5 separate regions of the Homo sapiens genome follow, and all the other regions are linked to region 1. The links come from fine-mapping of genetic effects on gene expression. A gene starts in region 1. Each other region holds a variant in brackets. All regions are shown on one strand. Distances are between the middles of the regions. Region 1 holds the start of NCOA4 (nuclear receptor coactivator 4). Region 2 has its middle 35 kb from the start of MSMB. Region 3 has its middle 25 kb from the start of OR13A1. Region 4 has its middle 44 kb from the start of MSMB. Region 5 has its middle 28 kb from the start of AGAP4.

Evidence for each region. PIP is the estimated chance that this variant, and not a neighbour inherited with it, causes the effect.
Region 2: its variant is fine-mapped to the expression of NCOA4 in whole blood (TOPMed, PIP above 0.99).
Region 3: its variant is fine-mapped to the expression of NCOA4 in whole blood (INTERVAL, PIP above 0.99).
Region 4: its variant is fine-mapped to the expression of NCOA4 in whole blood (INTERVAL, PIP above 0.99).
Region 5: its variant is fine-mapped to the expression of NCOA4 in whole blood (INTERVAL, PIP above 0.99).

The regions. Positions count from the first base shown.
Region 1 is chr10:46,027,842-46,032,947 of GRCh38, forward strand. NCOA4 (nuclear receptor coactivator 4) reads right to left here and starts at 2,782. Exons shown (of 10, transcript NM_001145263.2): 1 at 2,685-2,782. LOC105378287 (a long non-coding RNA gene) reads left to right here and starts at 2,934. Exons shown (of 3, transcript XR_945923.4): 1 at 2,934-3,026; 2 at 4,748-4,943. RefSeq lists a silencer at 2,308-2,397 and an enhancer at 2,758-2,827.
Region 2 is chr10:46,078,559-46,083,664 of GRCh38, forward strand. No RefSeq gene overlaps it. Among named protein-coding and RNA genes, the nearest start is that of MSMB, 35 kb to the left of the region's middle. The variant A/G (reference allele first, on the strand shown) is at 2,440.
Region 3 is chr10:45,288,136-45,293,241 of GRCh38, forward strand. No RefSeq gene overlaps it. Among named protein-coding and RNA genes, the nearest start is that of OR13A1, 25 kb to the right of the region's middle. The variant T/TAC (reference allele first, on the strand shown) is at 2,043.
Region 4 is chr10:46,088,058-46,093,163 of GRCh38, forward strand. No RefSeq gene overlaps it. Among named protein-coding and RNA genes, the nearest start is that of MSMB, 44 kb to the left of the region's middle. RefSeq lists a silencer at 3,482-3,776. The variant T/C (reference allele first, on the strand shown) is at 2,362.
Region 5 is chr10:45,817,410-45,822,514 of GRCh38, forward strand. No RefSeq gene overlaps it. Among named protein-coding and RNA genes, the nearest start is that of AGAP4, 28 kb to the right of the region's middle. The variant A/G (reference allele first, on the strand shown) is at 3,122.

The DNA.
Region 1 (5,106 bases):
TAGGTATACTTTCTTGGAAAGATCTGATGACTAATATATGTAAAGCACTTAAAATAGTGCCTGATGCACATTAAGAGCTATAGAAGTATTACCTATTTTTATTACTTTTAGTCAAAGAACAGGATATAACAAAGAAAGACATAAAGTTCATCAATTTCATTACCATCATCTCTCTCCAGGACTCTTGCAGAAACCTCATGACTGCTACCTACTCTTCCCCTCTACCCTTACTCTTCTCCTCCTGCTGCTCCTTTAGCTTAACAAGGATGCTTCTGCCTCAGGGCCCTTGCGCTTTCCTCCAGGTATCCTCGAGCCCAGGCCTTCACTTCCTTCAGGTGTCTGCTCAGAGGTCATCTTCTCATTGAGGCCATTCCTCACCATCTTTTATTTTTAAAAGTCTTGCCTCCAATCCCCCTTAATATGCTTTATTACTCTCCATAGTACTAACCACAGTCTGGCACGTAGCAACCATTTATTTTCTGATCTCCCTTCAGAAAACATACTAGAAGGTAAGTTCCACATGGCGGGGACTTTGTCTTTTTGTTCACTGTTGTATAGTAGGTGTTCAACAATTAATTACTGAGTAAATGAATTCAGTAAGTATTTACATCTAGTCTACTATGTGCCGAGCCTTTTTTTAAAAAACTCACTATCTCAATTAGCCCTCATTAAAGTGGCTATTATCATCACCATTAATTAAAAAAAAAAAAAAAGCAGACTTGACAAGGTTAAATATATTACCTACAGTCACAAACTCCCAAGTAGAAGAGCCAAGATTTAATCCCAGATCTGAGTCCAAAGTCCCTAACCACACCTGGTATGTTGAAGGAATCATTAAGTATTAAGGTATTATGTATTCATCCAACAACTATTTATTGAGTACCTAAACTGACACTACTGTGATAGTCCCTGAGAACACAATGGTGAGCTTGCCACCTAGAGGAGAACTCGTGTCATAGATTCACCAACCAAGCAGAAAATACTAATTCTTTGAAATAAGAGACTGAGTTCAAAGTCCATCAGCAGCAGCAATGACTGGCTCTGAATGCTAACACTATGTGAGGGAAAGTATTATAAAACACTAACTTAGGGACTCTCAACCGGGGGAGGGATATGTGTCAGGATATCCTATGGAGTTTTATGAAACCCCTACACCGGATCCTGAGATTCTGGCACAGCTATACTGATTTAATAAAAAAAAAAAAAAGGGGGGGGTGAGGGGTACTATGTAGTTCTAAAATATCTTCTCTCCCTTTGAGAAGGACATCTTCCTCCCCTTCCATAGCTCAACATGTTTTTCCATTTCCGAAATGCCTGTTTGCACAAAGGTAATAATGTAATTGTAGAGATTTATTTAGATAAAAACTACCACAAAACTTTCAAAGAGTAGGATTTTCCTTAGAGACCCAAGGACAAAGGCTCCCTGGAAGGCAGGAAAGGAGAAAATGAAAGGAACGTTATTGTGCTGGACTTTACATACATAATCTCATTTACTTATCTGAACAAATCTGCAAGCTAGCAAATCTTCAAATGAGAAAACCAAGTAAATTGCCTAAGCCACTGCATCCTTAGGGTAAGTCTTTCTCAAACGGTCTCAAGTACTTTAAAGTTTGGAAATGTCACACTAGGATCTCGGTATAAAAATGGGCCAACTATGACTTCCTGTGCCATCCTCATTCCAATAAGTAACTCAAGAGTCTCTATAAACTTAGTTCCAAATTACCAAGTGCGTGGTGGAAAGCTAAGTCCATCCAAAAGGCAATTACTGTGGTGAACCCGACCCTGATTAGAAAGTGACACAAAAAGGCACAGTTAAAAGTAAAAAAGCTCTGCCTTTGGGGTCAGATAAATTCAGCACTCTGACTTCTGTCATTCTACTTCTGCCATTCTTGATGGCATCATTCCATGTTAAATCCCGTGCCACGTAAGATTATGATTATTGTTTTCCCCACAACAAGAATTTAGTTCCATGAGAATTAGGTGTCCATTTTTTTCATTGCTATCCTCAACATCCTGAACATACAGGCACCAAATAAATGATTGCTGGTGGAATGAACCAATGAATGAGCAAGCCTTACTCTTCTCAGCTGTAAAACAGAGATAATCAAGCTACTTTTCGGGATTATTGGGAGAATTAAATGTGACAGTATGTGTTTGGCACACAGAGGGCCAAAAAAACCCAATATCTTCTTTGCATTTCCACCTGACAAGCTAGAAATGGATTATGTTCTGTGCCCGTCCGGCAAAACAGACCTCGCCTCGCCCCACATCCAAGCAAGAGGCGAGAGAAACAGGAAACTTGGAGCTGTCACACCTAAAGAGAGGGGAAGGCCGGCGGGGAGCAGGAGGTGTCCGAGCCGGGTGTGAGGAGGGTCGGGGAGGAAAGGACAGGCCCACGGCCGGGCACGAGGAGGGTCGGGGAGGAAAAGACAAGCCCGGGCCCGGCGTGTGGCGGGAAGGCGAGAACGTAGGCCCGGGCCCGGCGTGTGGCCGGAAGGGGAGAAGACAGGCCCGGGCCCGGCGGGCAGGCAGGAAGAGGTGCCCGGGCCTGGCGTGTGGAGGGGAGGGAAGGGAAGGAGAAGGCAGACCGGTCCCGGTGTCGGTCGGGTCGGGAAGGGGCGGACAAGCCCGGGCCCAGCGGGCCAGCGGTCATCGAGCCTCCACCCGGCCCACAGCGTTCTTACCAGGTCCGAGTGCCTCTCCAGGCGATCCGAGGAGACCTTGGGTGGACTGAGACACGGCCCCACACTAACCTACGGCCCAAAGGCAGAGTTCTCGCGACAACACAATCTTCCTCCCACACCTCTCGCCATACGTCTGACAGTCTCGCGAGATCTCCGCTCGGGTCAGCCAGAAGCCCTTGACTGCCCTCTAGGAGGCGCAGAGCGCAGGCGCACACTCCCTCCCCGCCCTTGCAGTGTCCTTTAGTCCTTCGTGAATAAATCGAAATTAAATGAAGCAAATGCTTTTTTGAAGGCAAATTTGGTGCCAAGGACCATCCTAAGTGATTCAGATGGCCTCACAAGGTAGATATTATTTAGTTTGAACATTCAGATGCAAAAATGAATATCGTAAGACACAAAAGGCCATATGTTGTATGATTCCACCTTTGCCACATTTGTTTTTCTAAGGATTGAGTTAATAGGCCGGGAGCAGTGGCTCACGCCTGTAATCCCAGCACGTTGGGGGCCGAGGCGGGCGAATCACGAGGTCGGAAGATGGAGAGCATCCTGGCTAACACGGTGAAACTCCTTCTCTACTAAAAATACAAAAAAATTAGCCAGGCGTGGTGGCTCGCGCGTATAGCCTCAGCTATTCGGGAGGCTGAGGCAGAACTGCCTGAACCTGGGAGGCAGAGGTTGCAGTGAGCCGAGATCGCTCCACTGCACTCCAGCCCGGGCGACAGAGCAAGACTCCGTCTCAAAAAAAAAAAAAAAAAAAATTGAGTAAATAAATAAATGGCAGAACCCAGATTCTTTTTTTCTTTTCTTTTTTCTTTGAGACAGGGTCTGACTCTGTCGCTCAGGCGCAGTGGCGCAATCTCGGCTTGCTGTAACCTCTGCCTCCTGTGTTCAAGCGATTCTCCTGCCTCAACCTGCTGAGTAGCTGGGATTACAGACATGCGCCATGATGCCCGGTTTTTAAATTTTTTTGTAGAGACAGGGTCTTGCTGTGTTACCCAGACTGGTCTCAAAGTCCTGGGCACAAGCGATCCTCCCACCTGATCTAGGATTACAAGCATGAGCCACCACGTCCAGCCTACAGCCCAGATTATAACCCACATTATTTACTTGTGACTAGATGTTAAATAGCACTTCTTTCTGTCTCAGTTTTGACAGAGGTCCTCCATACTCAGTTGCCAACTGCTTCCCCACATTCCGCAGCAAAGGAGGTGATCATAGCAGGGTTTTATGGATCTCATCCAAGAGTGACTCTGCTACAAGGGGCAAGGCAACCTCATTAGAAAACAATAGGAGACATAGATTACGATGCAGAAGCTAAGATAACAGTCATAGGCTGTGAGTGGAAGGGGAGCTGTGGAGAGAGAAGCCCACAAAAGTCCCATGAGGAAGTCAGCCTAGAACATGACCTCAGGCAGAAGGAGCCCTTAACTCTCCTGTCCCCCATTCCCTCTCAATTCAGATGCAGCCCCTGGAATGAGACTTTGTGTAACTCAAAATGTAACTCAGACCACTTTTTTAAATTATCTGAAGGTGAACAAGAAAGCTAAGGGACCTGTCTAGATTGCTCAACTGGCCCACATAGCATGTTTAAACAGATAGGGGACAGGGGAAAATAAAGCTCTTTATCAGTTGCCCACTGATTGTTCAACAGATGACTGTTTGCTCATTTCTGATCTGTCACGTACACACAGCTGAGTCCAAGCCCCAGGAGAACAGGGTTCTCTCCTGAAATCTCTCTGGTTCACTGCTGTATCCCCAGGTCTAGAGCACTGCCTGGCCCAGGTGCTCAGTACAGACCTGTTGAGTGAACAGATGTTCTTTAACACAGAAACAGTTAAAAGAGAATCAATGTTGTCGTTGTCTTAAGCCACTAAGTTTTCGGTGGTCTGTGTGTAGCAAGAGGTAGCTGATGCTGGGGCCTTGCACCCAGGCCACTCTCCATCTGCAAGGCAGAGCCCCTGGCCTTTAATTCCCCTCGGGCTGCATGTGGTCTTGGGGGCACTTTCTTCAGGCTTGTTCTAAGCTGTTTTACAGGCTTGTTCTAAGCTGTTTCTTGTTCTAAGCTGCTTTGACCTCAAGCAAACACAGAGGAATGTGGGGGACACATCATAGAAGACACTTCCTGATGAAGAGGAAGGAGGGATAAACAGGAACACCGTAAAGAAAAGAAGGGATCTAATTCCAGCTTGAAGACACACATTTTTTTCATCGTTCACCAGACAGCAGGACACGGGCAGCAGAGTGCAGACATCAGAAACAGTAAGAGTGGCAGTGGTCCCCTGAGTAAGGGATGCACAATGACCTATTATAGAGTTTAGGAAAAATAGAACTTTTATTCATATGTATTTTGTTTTGTTTTGTTTTGTTTGGGTTTGGGTTTGTTTGTTTGTTTGCTTGTTTTTTGAGACGGAGTCTCACTCTG
Region 2 (5,106 bases), 51 kb after region 1:
ACATTCTGGAGTTGAAGCTGTTTCCACTAATAGCCAGAGAACAGTCCAGTTCTAACAGAGGTGCCAGGGATGCTCTCTCCTGGAGAGCACTGAATTTCCTGGAGACAAAGTCTTCTGGGAGTATTTCTAGGAAGAATAACTTTTTTTTTTTTTTTTTTGAGACAGAGTCTCACTCTGTCGTCCAGGCTGGAGTGCAGTGGCGCGATCTCGGCTCACTGCAACCTCCACCTCCCGGGTTCAAGCGATTCTCATCCCTCAGCCTTCCAAGTAGCTGGGACTACAGGCGCGTGCCACCATGCCTGGCTAATTTTTTTTTTTTTTTTTTTTTGTATTTTTAGTACAGACAGGGTTTCACCGTGTTAGCCAGGATGGTCTCAATCTCCTGATCTTGTGATCCGCCCGCCTCGGCTTCCCAAAGTGCTAGGATTACAGGCGTGAGCCACTGCACCCCGCCGGAAGCATAACTTTTCAACGTTTGTGCAGATAACACCCTGAGGGGCCTGGCCCATGACTACAGAGGAAGATCATCTATGATTGAAATAATTAAAAGACCGGAGTTCCCTGCTAACTTTGAATATGATTTGGCCAAGTGCCGGGTCCTAGAGAAAACAAGAGCCCATCAGCAGGCAGGTCTTTATGGGGAAAAGGTGCCCCTCCTTGTGCTCTCTATAAAGACAGGGAGCCTTAGCTGGTGGACTTGTCAAGGGATGAGTTCTCCAAAAGCAACCAGTGAGATGGAGTTTGAGGCGCATGATACTTATTAGAGATCCACACCTAGGAAGGGAAGGAGGAAAAACTGATGGGGCAGAGGAAAAAACTGAACTGTGTTGTGGGCCCAGCACAGCCTCAGTCTACCTGGAGGGCACCCTGGAGCAACGGTGTTCATCAAGAGTGTCCACTTCAGGCCGGGCACGGTGGCTCAGGCCTGTAATCTCAGCACTTTGGGAGGCCAAGGCGGGCAGATCACGAGGTCAGGAGATCGAGACCATCCCGGCTGACACGGTGAAACACCATCTCTACTAAAAATACAAAAAATTAGCCAGGTGTGGTGGCGGGCGCCTGTAGTCCCAGCTGCTCTGGAGGCTGAGGCGGGAGAATGGCGTGAACCCGGGAGGCGGAGCTTGCAGTGAGCCAAGATCGCGCCACTGCACTCCAGCCTGGGGGGCAGAGCGAGACTCTGTCTCAAAAAAAAAGAGTGTCCTGTTCAGACTGGAATATTGGGGCCTGTGTATCCTGCTTCACCCAGTCACTGGATGAGGCTGCCCCAAGACGGCAGCAACCTTGGGTGACCCAAGATCACCCCACAGACCAAGGACCCCCAAAGAGCCAAAAGCTAGAGGCCACCCATTGACTGCAAGCCCTGCAGCTAGGCTTCACATCCTCCTTGGTGGGGAAGATGGAGGAAGGGGTGAGTCGGGCAACTCCATGTCTTCCACAGTCTTCTACCTAGGTTCTTCCAAGCTCCCCATAGCATCATCCTCTTAGGCAACATCTTTTACTAAATATTGCATTAGATACTAATGGCATCGGTCCCATATCCCTTCAGCCCTCCCTGTTTTATCTGCAGCTGTGGTTGACAGTTTTTGTGCAAGCTAACAGCTTCTCCTTTTTGCCACTGGGGTCAGTTAACTTTCAGTTACAGACAAACCTGTTTAAAACACAAACAGGCATATACCTCTTAGAAGAGAACAAAAATGTTGCCTTTTCAGATCTCAGACTTTAAGAAATTTTGGAACCAGGAATTGACAAACAGTGCTTGGAATTCAAGGAATGAACTGACCCTAGGCACTTCTAAAATAAATTCCAGCTCAGTAGAAACAATAATTTGAACTTGCATTTCCCATGAGCAAACTTTCATGATCCTGTAGCTATAACACGACTGGATGGTGAGAATGTAACCACTGCTGGTATCATCCCAACTTGTCAGCCCACAGTGTTAGCCTTTGGGCTTCCTGGGATATCTGAGTGGCAAGTTACCCATGAAATACATTAGGCAAACAGGATTCGATGAAAGGAGGAGGAAATTATTCCTACACATTGGATGTTTATATTTTAGATCTAAATTGCAGCAGGTACATATTGGTTCTTTCCTTAATCATTGGCTTATGTTGAAGTTCACATTAATAATGGAATGTTTCCTTTATAAAGAAAGACAACCCTGCTGATTTCCTGCTGTAGGACAGGCTATCCTGGAACTGGTGTAGGCTGGGCAGTTGTCTACACCCAACCCTGATCCTCTTAGTGCCATCCTTCAGATGTTAGGCCAGCACCTTCAACTACAAATTAGGCAAAGCTAAGAGACATATATGATTAATTTCATATATTAATTTTATATATTCCTATATTAATTTCCCAAAAATATTTTAAACAAAGGTTATACAATGAAGCTAATCAAATAGAAGTGGCAAATCAAGATAAGGAAAGAAAACCCAAGAATTC[A/G]TGGGAGCAAAAGGGCTGTTGTAACTGCATCAGAATGTGGGCATGAGGTTCCTAGTTTCCAGAGCAGTAAAAACAAAACAAACAGCAACAGCAACAAAAACAAACCCACATAAAACCACCAAGTTACGCAGTTCTCATCAGAAAGAGGAAAGCATTCCAGATTCTTAGCAGAGATGCATTTTCCCTCCCAAATTTCTAAAATTTAAACATAACAAATTTGTTTTTTATTTTTTTATTTTAAGTTCTGAGATACATGTGCAGAACGTGCAGGTTCATTACAGAGGTATACGTGTGCCATGGTGGCTTGGTGCATCTATCAACCTGTCACCTAAGTTTTAAGCCTCGCATGCGTTAGCCATTTTCCCTGATGCTCTCCCTCTCCTCGCCCCTGCTTCGACAGGCCCCTGTGTGTGTCGTTCCTCTCCTTGTGTCCATGTGTTCTCATTGTTCAGCTCTCACTTATGAATGAGAATATGCAGTGTTTGGTTTTCTGTTCCTGTGTTAGTTTGCTGGGGATGATGGCTTCCAGCTATATCCATGTCCCTGCAAAGGACATGATCTCATTTATTTTTGTGGCTGCATAATATTCCATGGTGTATATGTACCACATTTTCTTTATCCAGTCTATCATTGATGGCATTTGGGTTGGTTCCATGTCTTTGCTATTGTGAATAGTGCTGCAATAAACATGCATGTGCATGAACCTTTATAATAGAATGATTTATATTCCTTTGGGTATATACCCAGTAATGGGATTGCTGGGTGAAAGGTATTTCTGGTTCCAGATCCTTGAGGAATCGCCACACTGTCTTTCACAATGGTTGAACTAATTTACATTCCCACCAACAATGTAAAAGCATTCCTATTTCTCCACAGCCTTGCCAGTATCTGTTGTTTCTTTTTTAATAATTGCCATTCTGACTGGCATGAGATGGTATCTCACTGTGGTTTTGATTTGCATTTCCCTAATGATCAGGAATGTTGAGCTTTTCTTCATGTGCTTATTGGCTGCAAAAATGTCTTCTCTGGAGAAGTGTCTGTTCATATCCTTTGCCCACTTTTTGATAGGTTTATTTTTCTTGTAAATTTGTTTAAGTTCCTTGTAAGTTCTGGATATTAGACTTCTGTCAGATGGGTAGATTGCAAAAATTTTCTCCCATTCTGTAGGTTGCCTGTTCTCTCTGATAATAATTTCTTTTGCTGTGCAGAAACTCTTCAGTTTAATTAGATCCCATTTGTCAATTTTGGCTTTTGTTGCAATTGCCTTTGGCAATTTTATCATAAAATCTTTGCCTATGCCTGTCTTGAATGGTATTGCCTAGGTTTTCTTCTAGGGTTTTTATGTTTTTGGGTTTTACATTTAAGTCTTTAATCCATCTTGAGTTAATTTTTGTATAAGGTATAAGGAAGGGGTCCAGTTTCAGTTTTCTGCATATGGCTAGCCAGTTTTCCCAGCACCATTTATTAAGTAGGGAATTCTTTCCCATTGCTCATTTTTGTCAGGTTTGTTGAAGATCAGATGGTTGTAGATGTATGGTGTTATTTCCAAGGTCTCTATTCTGTTCCATCGGTCTATATGTCCGTTTTGGTACCAGTACCATGCTGTTTTGGTTAGTGTAGGCTTGTAATATAGTTTGAAGTCAGATAGTGTGATGCCTCCAGCTTTGTTCTTTTTGCATAGGATTGTCTTGGCAATGTGGGCTCTTTTTTGGTTCCATATGAATTTTAAAGTAGTTTTTTCTAATTCTGTGAAGAATGTCGATGGTAGTTTGATGGGAATAGCATTGAATCTATTAATTACTTTGGGCAGTATGGCCATTTTCACAATACTGATTCTTCCTATCCATGAGGATGGAAGGTTTTTCCATTTGTTTGTGTCCTCTTTTATTTCCTTGAGCATTGGTTTGTAGTTCTCCTTGAAGAGGTCCTTCACGTCCCTTGTTAGCTATATTTCTAGACATTTCATTCTCTTTGTAGCAATTGTGAATGGGAGTTCATTCATGATTTGGCTGTCTGCTTGTTTATTGTTGGTATATAGGAATGCTTATGATTTTTGCACATTGATTTTGTATCCTGAGACTTTGCTGAAGTTGCTTATCAGCTTAAGGAGTTTTTGGGCTGAGACGATGGGGTTTTCTAAATATAGGATCATGTCATCTGCAAACAGAGACAATTTGACTTCCTCTCTTCCTATTTGAATACCCTTTATTTCTTTCTCTTGCCTGATTGCCTTGGCCGGAACTTCCAATACTATGGAAGTGGTTTTTAAATTTTTAAATGCCTAATTAAAAAATAAAATCTGGCCAGGTGCAGTGGCTTACTCCTATAATCCAGCACTTTGGGATGCCAAGGCTGGTGGATCACCTGAGATCAGGAGTTCGAGACCAGCTTGGCCAAGATGGTGAGACCCTGTCTACACTAAAAAAAAAAATACAAAAATTAGATGGGCATGGTGGTGGGCACCTATAATCCCAGCTATTTGGGAGACTGAGGCACAAGAATCGCTTGAAACTGGGAGGCAGAGGATACAGTGAGCCGAGATCACGCCATTGCACTCCAGCCTGGGTGACAAGAGCGAAACTCCGTCTCAAAATAAATAAATAAATAAAATCTAAAATTTCGAAGGTAAATTTCGCATGTGGAACTTTACTTTTCAGATACTGATTG
Region 3 (5,106 bases), 740 kb before region 1:
AGTTCATCTGCATCTCATTATTGGCAGCAGGAAATAGCAGCCCAACCCTCAGTTTGGTCCAGGAACACTCCTGCCTTAGCGTCCCGAGTAGCTGGGATTAAAGGCATGTGCCCAGCTCACTGCTACACTCCCACTAGTGCCATGACAGTTTACAATGTAGGGATGTAAACTGTCATGGCACTAGTGGGAGTGTAGCAGTGAGGACAACCAGAGGTCACTATCATCGCCATCTTGGTTTTGGTGGGATTTAGCCAGCTTCTTTACTGCAAGTTTTATTAGCAAGCTCATTATGAGCTGTATCTTTGTGCTAGCCTCCTATCTTATCCTGTGTCTTAGAATGCCTAATTATCTGGGAATGCAGCCTATAGGTTTTAGCCTTATTTTACCCAGCTGCTACTCAAGATGGAGTTGCTCTGGTTCAAATGCTTCTAACAAACTCAAGCATTTTTTTATGCTGAATTCAATTCTTAAAGCAGAGCTTAACTCTTTCAACCAACTGCCTGTCAGAGAATCTTTGAATCCACTTATGACCATGAATCTCCACCCTCTTTGCTTCAAGATGTCTCACCTTTCTGGGCCAAACCAACATATACCTTATGTATATTGATTTATGTCTTTGCCTGTAACTTCTCTCTCCCTAAAATGTATAAAACCAAGCTGTAACCCAACTACTTTAGGCACATGTTTTTAGGACTTCCTGAGGCTGTGCATGGGTCAAGGTCTTTAATCTTGGCCAAATAAACCTCTAAATTGATTGAGTCCTATCTCAGATACTTTTTGGTTTACAAGGGTTATTGTGGCAGATTAGACTATTGCTCCCAATTCTTTGCTCCTTCCCTGTAACAATTACACAGCCATGATACAAGTACAGGTTTAAATAGGTTTGCTTGGTTTGGTTTGTCTCTCCCACTACATCCATCAGCCATGAAAAGAACATGCCACAGGTAGCCACAGATCCCAGCATGAAAAGACACATGGAACATACGTGAAGCCAACCTTCAATGAGAGCCTCACCAATCCAATCCCAGTGGAACCTAGTGGAGCCCAGCCAATCCACCAACTTGTGAATGAGAAAAAGATATGTTTGTCTTTGCAAACTGCTGAGTACAGCTTGAGGATAAGCTTTACTCACCTCCAAGTACAGGGGGTAAGCACACAGCATTATCACAAAAAAAAATTACTGAAAACCATGATAATTGTGGGGCTTTAACTCCACTAAATGCAAAAGAGGATACAAGCATTTGGATTTAACTTAGCAATTTTTTCCTCTGTTTGTGGGTAAAGGTTTAACAAAACCCTGCCTTTCTGCAAGAGGTACTGACCTTCTATTTACTTTCTAGCTTGATTCCTCTGGAAATCTGATAACTATGGAAAGCCTTGTGTTACTAGGTAGCAATGCTTAGGTAAAAGAGACCCCTGAGTGGCTGATTGCTTGTGGATGTGACACCAGATAAGTCATAATTTGAGACTTCTCTTCCACTAGAAGCCACCTACATTAGTTTCCTAGAACTGTCATTAAAAATTATAACACTGGTGACTTAAAACAATAGAAATTTATTCTGCCATAGTTCTGGATATTAGAAGTGTAAAATCCAGGCGTGAGCAGGGCCATGCTCTCTCTGAAGGCTCTAGGGAACTGTCCTCTCTTGCCTCTTCTGGCTAGTGGTGGTTTCTGGCAATCCTTGTTGTTTCATGGCTTATGAAGGCATCGCTCCAATCTCTTCCTCTGTCTTCACATGGATTTCTGCTTTGTGTGTCTCTATGTCTGGCCAGTTTGTGGTGCATATGTTTGAATTGCATCAGTGGGAAATTGAGTTGAGTGGGAACTTAAGTCACTTAGATAAACCAAAATCTATTTACATATCGGTAAAAATCAACTCAAATGGTATGCTTTTCTCATGAGAGGCCGCATGTTCAAATGTAAGAAAAAGATGCAATTACAAATTGGCCTGATTTTATTTCACTTCTTGGGTTGTGTTAGGATATAATGTATCCTCATGGGAAAAAGAAATTACAGACTTAATTTGCATAGTAGACTGATT[T/TAC]ACACACACACACACACACACACACACACACGAAGGGAGAGAGATGTCATCAGTTCTGAGAGTATTATTTGTTCATCTACATTTGAGAGGTCCAAGAGTCTCCACCATGTAAAAGCCCCAAGAGATCATCAGTAAGAGACTGGGCTCTATTGACATCAAGAGAAATTAATATGATTAATTAATGAGGCCCCTTTTGTTGCTGAGAAATTGTAGGTATAAGCATTTTTAATTGTTTTTAGGGATATGAGGTTTTTCAATTGAGTAAGTGAAGAAAATAGGTAGAATATATCCCTCCCAATACCCATTGGATAAAACTGTTGGTGATGGTCGTTTTTCCACCATTTTAGTCCAGATTGACCGCTCTTGATTTCTTTCAACTGGGTGTATGAGCCACACTCACTCTTGCCAGACACTCTTGCCAGGAGCCTATAATACTCTCTCCCTCCCCACTTCAACACTAAGTTATCCTGTCTGTCTTCCACTTATCCTTAGGAGCACAGCCTAAATGACACTTGTCACAGGAGGCCTACTTTAACCCCCACAAGCAGGGGCATTTCCCTTGTTATGGGGATTTTATTGTTGTTGTTTACTAAATTGTCTTCAAAACTAAGAGCTCAGGCAATGTTTACCAATCTTGCTCACTGCTGTATCCTCAGAAAGTATTACAGGGCTTGATGAGGGCAGAATAAGGATTTATTATAAGAGGAAGGAAATAATGAAAGTCTACAATGACATAGTTAGAACTGAGATTATTATGTGATTGATCTTCACCAAACAACCCAACCAGCAGGAAAAGAATATTTTCAGGAGTAAATCTAGGCTTTATGACATATATTGATCCAATTAGTAGCCTCTTGCTCTCACTTGGTTTATGCATACTGTATTGTAATCTTGAGTTCTCTAAAAGGTAAAGTTAACCTTGAGCAATATGAAAACTATAGTTCTCATCCTTTGACCACATGACTGACCAAGGCAACTGTCATGGTGACTGGACCCCAAGGTCCAGCCAAGGGCGCTGCTCTGCACACCCACCATAGCAACTCCATGATATACAGGAAGGGTTGGAAATGAGTGAATGTCATAGGGAGGATGTCTGGATGGGAGTATGAAGGAGAATGTAAAGCAATGGTTAGGCTTCCAGACACCAAAATAATCACATTTATGTCTAAAGGAGAGATAAAATCTGCACCCCCTGCATCCCCAGTGGTAGTGTTACAGGAAAGGGGTTCCAATCCAGACCCCAAGAAAGGGTTCTTGGATCTTGCACAAGAAAGAATTCAGGGCAAGTCCACAGAGTAAAGTGAAAGCAAGTTTATTAGGAAAGTAAAGGAATAAGAGAAAGGCTACTCCATAGACAGAGCAGCCCTGAGGGCTGCTGGTTGTCCATTTTTATGGTTATTTCTTGTTTATATGCTAAACAATGGGTAGATTATTCATGCCTCCCATTTTTAGACCATATAGGGTAACTTCCTGATGTTTCCATCACATTTGTAAACTGTCATGGTGCTGCTGGGAGTATAGCAGTGAGGAAGACCAGAGGCCATTCTCATCACCATTTTGGTTTCCATGGGTTTCAGCTGGCTCCTTTACTACTACCTGTTTTATCAGCAAGGTCTTTATGACCTATATTTTATGCTGACCTCCTTTCTCAACCTGTGACTTAGAATGCCTTAACCATCTGGGAATGCAGCCCAGTAGGTTTCAGCCTCATTTTTCCCAGCTCCTATTTAAGATGGAGTTGCTCTGGTTCACATGCCTCTGACAGTAGGTGCCTCAGGAAAGCAAGGACATTCATCTTGGGATGAGAGAATAGGGTTACAAACACCATTCTGAAACCAAGAATCAGGTCAGGAGAGAAAGCAATCTAGAGCATTCAAAGAGATTCCTCTCTAGCCCAGCCCCATGATGAGAAGCATGTTGACTTCTTTGAAGAGGTTCCAGGAAATCTGGAAGAGGAAGTCTAAAAGAACTTTTAACTTTTATAGGAGATACCATCCAAGGGCATGAGAAGTGTTAACAAACTCAGGATGAGCTCTCCTCACTCCTGGGACTGAATGAGCTCAGCCCTTTATGGGCACAGATTCAGCCCATTGTTGTGTTCAAAGCAGAAATAGCTGGAGCAGGACCTGGATCTGTCAGAGCCTGAAGAACTCACACCAGAGACCACAGGGAGCAGCACAGGAGCATGGAGCCTACAGGCCCCAGAAGGGAGGCCTGCATCAGTTGGCATCTGGGTGAGAAAACAGAAACCACACTACCAATTTAACAGAGAGGACCTAATATAGGGAACTGGCCAGAGACATTTGGGAGGACTGCAGAGCACAAGAGAAACTGCCGTGCTGCAAAAACAGCAACCACAGAAAGCAGCTTTATATCCTGGGACTGGAGGAGCAAAGAGAGTTTGAGGCCATGGTCAGTGAGAAAGCCAGTGAAGGGACTGCACTGAGCTGGACCAGAGACCCTGAGGAGAGTGGCTTTCCTGGGTGGCCTTGGTCTTCCTGTGGCATAAAGAGATCCCACAGGGCTTCAGCCTGAGGATGCATGCTACTCAGTGCATGCTGCTTCCTCAGCAGCTCGGAGGAGAGCCACCCTCGACAGGGATTGAAACCCCAGAGTAGGCAACACTGGTGACTATGTGCCAGCATCTCTGAGGGGCCAAATGAGGCTGCTCCTGCAAGTGTAAAAGCTGAGAGCAGCTGCTGTCCTTGGACCAAATCACTGCTGCAAAGCTAAGGAATCATCCTCAGGATGATGCTGACAGAAGCTGGAAGCAAATGGGACAGAGCAGGTCCCTGCTCTCTCCCAGCCTTCCAGGATCCCTCTAGGGCCCACTCTGGGCAGAGACTAACAGAAATCCAGCTGCAAAGGAAAAATAAGGTTTGCAGCATCCCAGGCTCAGAGTTGCAGAGATGGGTTTGGAACTGAAAGACAATAGGTTAAGAGTGAGCACAGTTGCTGCCCAAGGAACTCAGGACCCTCAGGTCTGGACCGGCTCAGGCAGCTACCTGAGCACAGAGGGAAGCAGGAGGATGTGGTTTGTTCTCTGACATGCAGACCCACATAA
Region 4 (5,106 bases), 60 kb after region 1:
TGCTTAATTCAATTATTAGCTCTGACAGGTATTTTGTATAATTTAGGGTTTTCTACATGTAAGATCATGTCACCTGCAAACAGAGATAATTTACTTCTTCCTTTATAGTCTGAATGCCTTTTATTTATTTTTCTTGCCTAATTAGTCTGGTTAAAACTTCTAATACTATATTGAATAGAAATGGTGAAAGTGGGCACCCTTGTCTTGTTCCTGATCTTAGGGGAGAAGCTTCCCATTTTTCTCCATTGAGAATAAAATTCTCTGTGGATTTTTCCTACATGGTCTTTATTATACTGAGGACACGTACACTTCTTGAGTGCTTTCCATGTGCCAAGCATTTCTAAATGCTCTGTATATATTATTTCCTTAATTGCACATAACTCTGAAATAGGCTCTATTATACCTCTTTTTTTCAGATGAGAAAACTATTGCACAGAGAGGTATGTTCTCCCTATAAATGAGATGATGTCTGTGTGTGGATTTTATTTTTACATATGGCATGTTGGTTTTATTAAAATAATGATTTATTTAGTTAATTAAACTTTAATTTTAAACAAACCAACTTTGTAGCATTATCACCCCATGTTGTGAATTTAGATCACACAATCACTTATTAGATGATAGACTGCTGCAGTACAATGCTAAAGGTCATGATTACTACATATCCTACTTAGAACACAACTGTTTGGATTTTTCTTTTATTTTTTGAGACAGAGTGTCTCTGTGTCACCCAGGCTGGCGTGCAGTGGCATGCAACCTCAATTTCCTGGGCTCAAGTGATCTAAGATTCTTAACAAACACCTTTCCGCTTAAAAATCTAATATATAGGCTGGGCACTGTGGCTCATGCCTGTATTCCCAGCACTTTGGGAGGCTGAGGCAGGTGGATCACTTGAGGTCGAGTTTGAGACCAGCGTGGTCAACATGGTGAAACCCCGTCTCTACTAAAAATATAACAATTAGCCAAATGTGGTGGCAGATGCCTGTAATCCCAGCTACTCAGAAGGTTGAGGCAAGAGAATCGCTTGAACCCTGAAAGAGCAAGATACTGTCTCAAAAAAACCCAAACAGTTTTTGTTGTTGGTTTTTTTTTTTTTTTTTGAGACAGAGTCTTGCTCTGTCGCCCAGGCTGGAGTGCAGTGGTGCAATGTTGGCTCACTGCAACCTCCACGCCTCCCGGGTTCAAATGATTCTCCTGCCTCAGCCTCCTGAGTAGCTGGGACTACAGGCACGCACCACTGTGCCCAGCTAATTTTTATATTTTTAGTAGAGACAGGTTTTCATCATGTTGGCCAGGATGGTCTCAATCTCTTGACCTCGTGATCCGCCTGCCTCCGCCTCCCAAAGTGCTGTGATTACAGGCGTGAGCCACTGCAGCTGGCCTATATATATTTTTTTAATCTGACATATTAATGTAATTTTTAATATTTGTAAAAATCATTAAAAACCTTTCCAGAGGCCGGGCGTGGTGGCTCACACCTGTAATCCCAGCACTTTGGGAGGCCAAGGAAGGCCAATCACGAGGTCAGGAGATCAAGACCATCCTGGCTAACACGATGAAACCCCATCTCTACTAAAAAATACAAAAATTAGCCGGGCGTGGTGGTGGGCGCCTGTAGTCCCAGCTACTCGGGAGGCTGAGGGAGGAGAATGGCATGAACCCGGGAGGCGGAGCTTGCGGTGAGCAGAGATCGCGCCACTGCACTCCAGCCTGGGCAACAAAGCGAGACTCCATCTCAAAAAAAAAAAAAAAAAAACCTTTCCAGGTAAGAACAGCTACTACCACTTTGTTACATGCAATAACTCAGTTAAACAGCTTAAGAACTCACTGTAGTTTAGTGGTTAAGACCCAGCACTCCAGAGCTAGACGATCTGGATTCAAGTCCTGCCTCTATTATATATATGTGTGATTAAGCCACTGCACTCCAGCCCGGGCAACATAGCGAGACACTGTCTCACGAAAAAATATTTTAAAAAAGAATGATGAAAATGTAATATGTCATTTGGGAACATGTCTTAATAATGTAATAACATATATGTAGAATAAGTTCATTTTTATAAAGCAAGCATATAATTCCATAAGAGTACAAAAGAATGGCCAGGCTTGGTGGCTCATGCTTGTAATCCCAGCATTTTAGGAGGCTGAAGTGGACAGATCACCAGAGGTTAGGAGTTCGAGACCAGCTTTGTCAACTTAGTGAAACCTCGTCTCTACTGAAAATACAAAAAAATTAGCTGGGTGGGCATGGTGGCAGGCACCTATAATTTCAGCTACCTGGGAGGCTGAGGTGGGAGAATTGCTTGAACCTGGGAGGCAGAGGATGCAGTGAGCCGAGATCATGCCACTGGACTTTAGACAGGG[T/C]GACAGAATGAGACTCTGTTTCAAAAAAAAAAAGCGGTAGCAGGAAAGGCCAGCTTGGTATCCTGTGCTGAGCAACCAGACCTGGCCCCACTCAGGGCAAGCATCGGGTGCTCTCCCACCACTAAGGCCAACAGCAGCTGCTTCCAAGTCTGATGCTATCAGGCAACACTCTCAACATCTTCCTCGCTCAGGTGTCCAAAGGGCCCTGGCCAGCCGGACACTGGGCTCAGTGTGCCCGGGAGGGAGCAACTGGGCCTGTGGCCTGCACCCCTTGGTCAGCCCAACTCGGCCACCCTGAGCAGGACTGAGGGCTGCCCCAAAGCTTCATAATCGGGGTGGTTGCAAATTACATTCTAGGCTGTGTTAGGACTACGTATTGCAAACATTTTTTTTTCCCTTTTTTGCAAGGTGGATGGATGAAAAGAGAGAGAGAGAGAGAGATAAAGGAGCATGGGCAAACATTCACTGTAAAATCCCAGTGGTGGATATAGGTGTGTTTGTGTTCATTGCACAATCCTTTCCACTCACCTATAGGTTTGAAAATTTCAACAATAAAGGATGGAAGAAAACCAAATAACTAAAGAAGAAAATTATGCTTAGACATAGACAATCAGAAGTCATGATACATCCTGGGTGACAAGTGACTGATGAGAGGGACAGACCAAGCCCTTGGGCTGCAGGGAGTCAGAGGGGCTGGTCATCAGGGAAGGCTTCCAGGATGAGGTGCCCTATGAACAGGGCTGTGAAGGACAGGTGGGCTCGGCCCTTCAAGGTGAGGCAGGGCTTGCAGGGTGCCTACGCCCCACCTGGTCCCACCTCTGCACAGGGCGCCCAGAACAGGAAGTGGCTCCTGGAGGGCCTGGGGGTTCTGCTAAGAGCCTCAGACACCTGCCAGGCTTAGAAGGGAGGCTCCTGCCAAAACCCTCCAGCCATGTGTGGGGGATGGGCTCAGGACTGGCCTGGAGCAGTGAGCCCAGCAGAGGCCTCTGCCAGGCTGCATATGAGGCCTAGGACTGAATGGGGGAGTCTGGGCTGCGTGCCTCCCTCCCTGGCCTCCTTCCTGGGCTCCCTGGAGCCCTCCTGGTTTCTTGGTGGCAGCCTGCTGAGAGGGCTTATTCTGTTGCATTTAGGTTCCAGGTTCCTGCCTTGGCCTTTCCCTGCTGTGACTGTCACCCTCCATGTGGGGCAGCTTTGCCCAAGTCAGCCAACAGCTGACAGGTCAGGGCTGTGACTGCCGGGCCACGTGAGCAGAGGCAGAGGGCTGAGCTGGTGGGCAGAGGGCACCTGTCACCTCAACTCAGCTGCCACCAGGGAAGAGTGACGACTCACATCCTCACCTGGGGTTGACAGGACTGCTCAGACGCCACAGCCTGTGCATGTCCAGGGGACATCGTCAGAGGAGCACAGCTAGCACACTGGCTGCACGACTGAGCAGCTTTAAACCAGGAGCAGCAGAAAGAGACCCCAAGTGGGAGGGGAGCTCTCTCTACTCCACCCCCATCCTCAGCTCTGCATCGGGGAGAGGTGAGTGGGGTCAGAGCCCAGGACCAATCATGGAAGTGTCAGCACAGCTCCTGTTTCTGGGACCTACCAGCTCCCAGCCCTGTGCCAGTCCCTGCACAGCTCAGTGCCCTGGGACTCACGACAGGCCTGACAGCATCCTTTCTGTTCATGGGAGGCACCTCTGGAGCTCGCTGACATTGGACAATTTGCTCCTGGTCGTGTGCCCATGGAGAGCAGAGCTGACATGGACGGTGTGTCTGTCCTCACAGCCTACTGCCAGGGCACCCTGCAGTGAGGAACTGGGAGGCCAGAACCCAGCTGCTGCTCTGGGCCAGCAGCACCCAGTCTCGTGCTGTCCCCATGGAGGGAGGACACCCAGGGCTCTCTTCCTCTCCAGCAGCCGCATTTGCATAAATGCCGGCCATGCGGAGTCCCAGTGCGCACAGGTGGAGATCAGGACAGACAGGGGTCATCACAGAGGACCACACAAGGCTGTCACCACCCATGCTGGGTACCCAGATGGCATGAGGTCACCCTTAATTCCAGACAGTAGGGACAGATGCTGGGATTGATCTTGTGGGACTGAGGTGAGCCGAGGGTGTTTGTGTGGACACCTTTGTCGGGCTATGGAGGTTTCCTTCTGCTCCCAGGGTGCTGTGGCATGTTGACGCCCCCACTTCTTGTTCTTCATCCTCTGAGATAACCGCTTGGTTCCTGTTTCCCGTTTTGTTGATGTGGTAAATTTCACAGCTATTTCACCTTCTGCACCTGCCTGGCCTTCCTGGGAGGAGCCCTGGCTGCTCCTGCCCTGTGGTCTGGGTTAGCTGCTGCTCCATGCCATTTGCTAGTGTTTTCCTGTGAGCTTCTCACACATGTCTTTTCTTGCTTTAGGGTTAAACTTATTGTTGTGAGGTAACAACACACTAATTGTACACAAGTACTCACACTGCCACCTCTGCATACTCCCCCCACACCAATAGACACTCACATTCACACTCATGTGGGCCACACATCCACACCCACCCACCCATGCACACTGGACCACAAACACACTCAACCCACCCTATACCACACACATCACACCACACACCACACACCCGAAGCACACACACCCACACACCACACACATACATAAATAGCAAACACACATACACCAAAAATACCAAAGACACACCAAACATCCCATACACACACCACACACATCACACATGCACCACACACTCCCCACTCCCCCAACACACA
Region 5 (5,105 bases), 210 kb before region 1:
TCAGAGCAAGCCCAATGCCCTCCCAGTCCAGGGAGAGGGCTCAGAGCAGGCTCATGTCCCCTGAGTCCAGGGTGAGGGCTCAGTGCTGACCCATTTATCCTCACAATGGACCTATACGTCCCTGGACATCCAAGGTGGGGCTCCGGGATGCCACCCCCAGCCAGGACAGACTGGCTCATTAGAAGGAACTTCCCCCACAGCTGCCTTCATTTGGAGATGCCGGGACACTGGCTGATGGGAGACAAGCTCAGTGAGCCCCATGAGGGCATGGGCCCCTGAAGCCCCTTGGCCCTGCCCAGCCTGGAATGTCAATGATCAGACTGTCTTGCCAGCTGAGACCTGGAGACCAGGCTAGGCCTCTGTGCCAGATTACATCCCTCTCAGGATGTGCTGGCGCCTGCCTCAGGTTAATTTCCAAAGCCTCATCCAGTAAAACCATGTCTCTCAAAGCAATTCCTCCAACAAGAGGGAATTCTCTGCCTACTTCAGAGTTTTTTAAAGTGTGGGTGGTAGTGTGCTAGAACTGAAAGATTTTGGAGTCAGAAGAAATGGTTCTTATTCTAACTCTCCCTTCCACCTCTTGGTTCCCTCATCTTTAGAATGGGAATCTGTTGGGATGATCAGAGCCAACACCAGGTCGTGGGGGCAACAAAGTCCCGCGGAGTCAAAAGAATGAGAAAAAGTTCAAGAGAGAAAGTGGGACCAGGGGGCCATTGCCAGTGTGGAGGCTGCAAAGGCACTGAGCTCTGGGAGCCCATGCTATTTATTGGTGATCTAACAAAGAAACAGGTGGTGAGGATGTGGAGGTTGAAAGGAAACAGTGTAGCAAGTGAATGAGAAATATATGGCTACTTGAGATAATGGGAATGCTGGAATCAAGAAGCCAGCAAGTCTAGCAGACATGCAAGCCCTGCCTCAGCTTCTCTACCAACACTCAGCTTTTCTCCCAACAGGAATCATAGAAAACTCAGAGGCTAGTGAAAGGTTAAAGCAGGTGGTTATCACCAGCTGCAGAGTCAAAAACAAAATACACATCTGCTGCCATGTAGAAAGAGGACACAAACTCAGGCAAGGCTGTTTTTCACATGATGACCCATGAGTGGGGCCTGGCTGGGCCTCCCCACACACAGCTGCTGACCTCTGCATACAAAACATGCTTCGGCCCAGAAGCACGCCAGCATTCACCCACCTGTGGGTATCAGTCAGGCTCCTGGTGGAAGCCAGAGGACATATTCGAATGGGTACTTGAGGAAAAGGGGCTGTTCACAGAAGTGTGGACAGAGTTAAGGGAACCAATGAGAGATGAGAAATGCCCTGGACCAGCAAGAGTGGGAGCTGTTATCTCCCTGGGTCTAGAGGGACAGGAAAGGTGTCCACAGACCCCGAAGAGAGCTGTGGCTGTAGGGGAGGATCATCAGGAGCTGCAGCCATCACTAGAAAGATGTGGCCACTGGCAAACCAGCAAGGAAGAATCTGAGTGAATAACCACCTCTCCTCTCTCTCCCACCTCCTATGACATCCCCCACTGTCTGAATTCCACTAGGGCCAGACAGTGAGGAACCTTGGTGATGCAGTCCAAGAGGGAGTGGGCAGAGAGGAGCCAGTGGGTATGGAGGGGAAACAGAGAAACAGAGAATTCCAGCTCACTCTGCGGGATTTCTGGGTCTGATAGAAACATAGCAGCAGCTTAATTATTATTATTTTGAGATGGAGTTTCACTCTTTTTACCCAGGCTGAAGTGCAGTAGCGTGATCTTGGCTCACTGCAACCTCTGCCTCCTGGGTTGAAGAGATCCTCCTGCCTCAGCTTCCCGAGTAGCTGGGATTACAGGGACATGCCACCACACATTGCTAATTTTTTTATTTTGGGTAGAGATCAGGTTTCAACATGTTGGCCAGACTGGTCTCGAACTCCTGACCTCAGGTAATCCGCCCGCCTGGGCCTCCTAAAGGGCTGGGATTACAGGCATGAGCCACTGTGTCCAGCCTGCAGCAGCTCAATTTTACAGTGTCCCTTTTCTCCTTCTGGAAACTATATAGAGCAACAACAAGACTGAGGAGGAGGAGGAGGAGAAGGAGGAAGAAAAAGCCCATCATCAACATACACATCAAACTCAACTTCAGAGAAATTAGGAAGCTGGGAAGCCACGTAAACCCAAAAGCAGGTGACACCAGCAGAACCAACACAGGAAGCCAGGGAAGTGCAGAAGAACAGGGCATGGGGGGCCACCCAGGGGGAATCTTCACTGTTGCCAGCAACACACACTCCCAGCAAGAGAGGACCCTCAGAGTGAGAACGCAGAGCTGGAGAAGTGAAGAAAAAAGGAACAGGTGGTGTGCGGGGAAGTCCAGGGGTGCGGGATCTGACAGCGTCCCTTCCCAAGAGAGGCAGGAACACTTGGGAAGGCAGGGCTGAGTCCCTGGAGGCTGTATCCGGGAAAGGAAGCTGGCAGTAGAACCTTCCTGAAGCCGAGTTGGTTCTGAGAGGCAGAGGGGCAGTGGTACAGGTGAGGCCGACGCTTCTGTGCAGGAAGGGCAGGCTCCTGAGGAAGGGAGCCCCGAATGCTCTCCACTAGATTCCCAGGGAGTCCCACTCCCTCCACAGGGACCTTGCGCTGACATCTGGGAAATGCCATTCATACTGGAACCTCCGACACACTGCCATGAATGTGAGGGTTTCGTGACTGATGGGGTAGGTTTCTCTTTTCCAATTCAATAGTATAATTTCCATTTATTCCTCCCCCAGCCTCCCTGAACATTCACATCTTAGATAGCCACAGTACGGTGATCAGAACCAGGAAATCCACATTCTCATATTTAACTATATTAAAATTATTTCACAAAATAACCAATTTTGTTAATTTAAATACATTTAAATGACGTTTAAATGTATTTAAATTATTTAACTATTTAAAAATGAACATATTAGCTAAACTAAAGACCTTATTGGAGTTTTGCCACTTTTTCCACTAATGTCCTTTTTCTGTTCCCAAATTCCACCCAGGATCACGCTGCATTTAGTTATTTCTCAGTCTCTCGCCGTTTTGTAGGACTGCAATAACAGTTCCTCAATCTTTCCTTATCTTTCATAACCCTGACATCTTGAACCAGTACTGATCACT[A/G]TTTGTCAAATGTTCCTCGATTTGGGTGTGTCTGATGTATTTCCATGATTGGACTGAAGTTACACACTTTTGGCAATTACAGCACAAAAATGATGTGGAATCCTTCCCAGTGCATTCCTTCAGAGTTATGGCATTGATAGTTCTTCTTACTGATGATGTTGAACTTGTTCATTTGGTTCAGGTTTCTGCTGGATTTCTCCATTGTAAAGTTACTATCTTTCCCCCTCATAGGGGGAAAGATCTTAGGAGAAATACTTGGAGACTATGAAAGTTTTGTATTTTCTCAAACTTTAAAATTTTTTTTCAGGCCAGGCGCAGTGGCTCACGCATGTAATCCTAGCACTTTGGGAAGCCGAGGCAGATGGCTCACCTGAGGTCAGGAGTTCAAAACCACCCTGATCAACATGGAGAAACCCCATACCTACTAAAAATACAAAATTAGCCAGGCATGGTGGTGCATGCCTGTAATCCCAGCTACTCAGGAGGCTGAGGAAAGAGAATCGCTTGAACCCGGGAGGAGAGGCTGCAGTGAGCTGAGATCGTGCCATTGCACTCCAGCCTGGATAACAAGAGCAAAAGTCCATCACACACACACACACACACACACACACACACCCACAAAAAAAAAAAAAAAAAAAAAAAGGCCAGGCACAATGGCTCACACCTGTAATCCCAGCACTTTGGGAGGCCAAGGTGGGTGGATCACCTGAGGTCAGGAGTTGGAGACCAGCCTGACCAACATGGAGAAACCCCATCTATACTAAAATAAAATACAAAATTAGCTGGGCATGGTGGTGCATGCCTGTAATCCCAGCTACTCGGGAGGCTGAGGCAGTAGAATTGCTTGAACACGGGAGGTGGAGGTTGCCGTGAGCCGAGATCCCGCCATTGCACTCCAGCTTGGCCAACAAAAGCAAAACTCCATCTCAAAAACAAACAAACAAACAAAAAACACCTATTTTGACAGCCGGGCATGGTGGCTCACACCTGTAATCCCAGCACTTTGGGAGGCCAAGGCAGGCGGATCACCTGAAGTCAGGAGTTCAAGACCAGCCTGGCGAACATGGTGAAACCCCGTCTCTACTAAACATAGAAAAATTAGTTTGGCATGGTGGCATGTGCCTGTAAGTTCCAGCTACTTGGGAGGCTGAGGCAGGAGAATCGCTTGAACCCAGAAGGCAGAGGTTGCAGTGAGCCGAGACGGTGCCATTGCACTCCAGCCTGGGCAGCAGAGTGAGGGATCTCAAAAAATTATAATAAAAAAATAATAATTCTATTTTGAATAGTGGTAAAATACACATAAAATTTACTACCTTAACCACTTCTAAGTGGCAGTTGGAACAGGGGTCAAGGAGAGCCCTTGGGTTGGGTAATGTATATTCACATTGCCATGCAACCAATCTCCGGAACTTTCTCATCTGACAAAACCAAAACTCTATATCCACTAAGCAACTTCCCATTTTCTCCCTTCCCCATGTCCCTGGCAACCCCCGTTCTACCTTCTGTTTCTATTAGTTTGCTTACTCAGTCTGGACGCTTCACATAAGTGAAGGAACACCGTATTTGTCTTTTTCTAACTGGCTTATTTCACTTAGCATAATGTCCTCAATGTTCATCCATGTTGTAGCATGTGTTAGAATTTCCTTCCTTTTTAAGGCTGAAGAATATTTTATTGTATGTATATACCACATTTTATCAATTCATCTGCCTATGGACAATTCGGCTGCATCCATCTTTTGACGAGTGTGAATACCACTGCTATAAATATCAGTGTACACATATTTCTATGAGACCTTGCTTTCAATTATTTTGGCTATATACCCAGAAGTGATATTGCCGGATCATTTGGTAATTCTATTTTTAATTTTTTGAGAAACTGCCTGTCCTGTGCTGAGCAGGTCTATATAAACCTATCTGCAAAGGCCAAGGAACCTGAGATACCAAAGAAAGAGGCTGACAAATCCAGTTTCTCAGAAAGAAACAT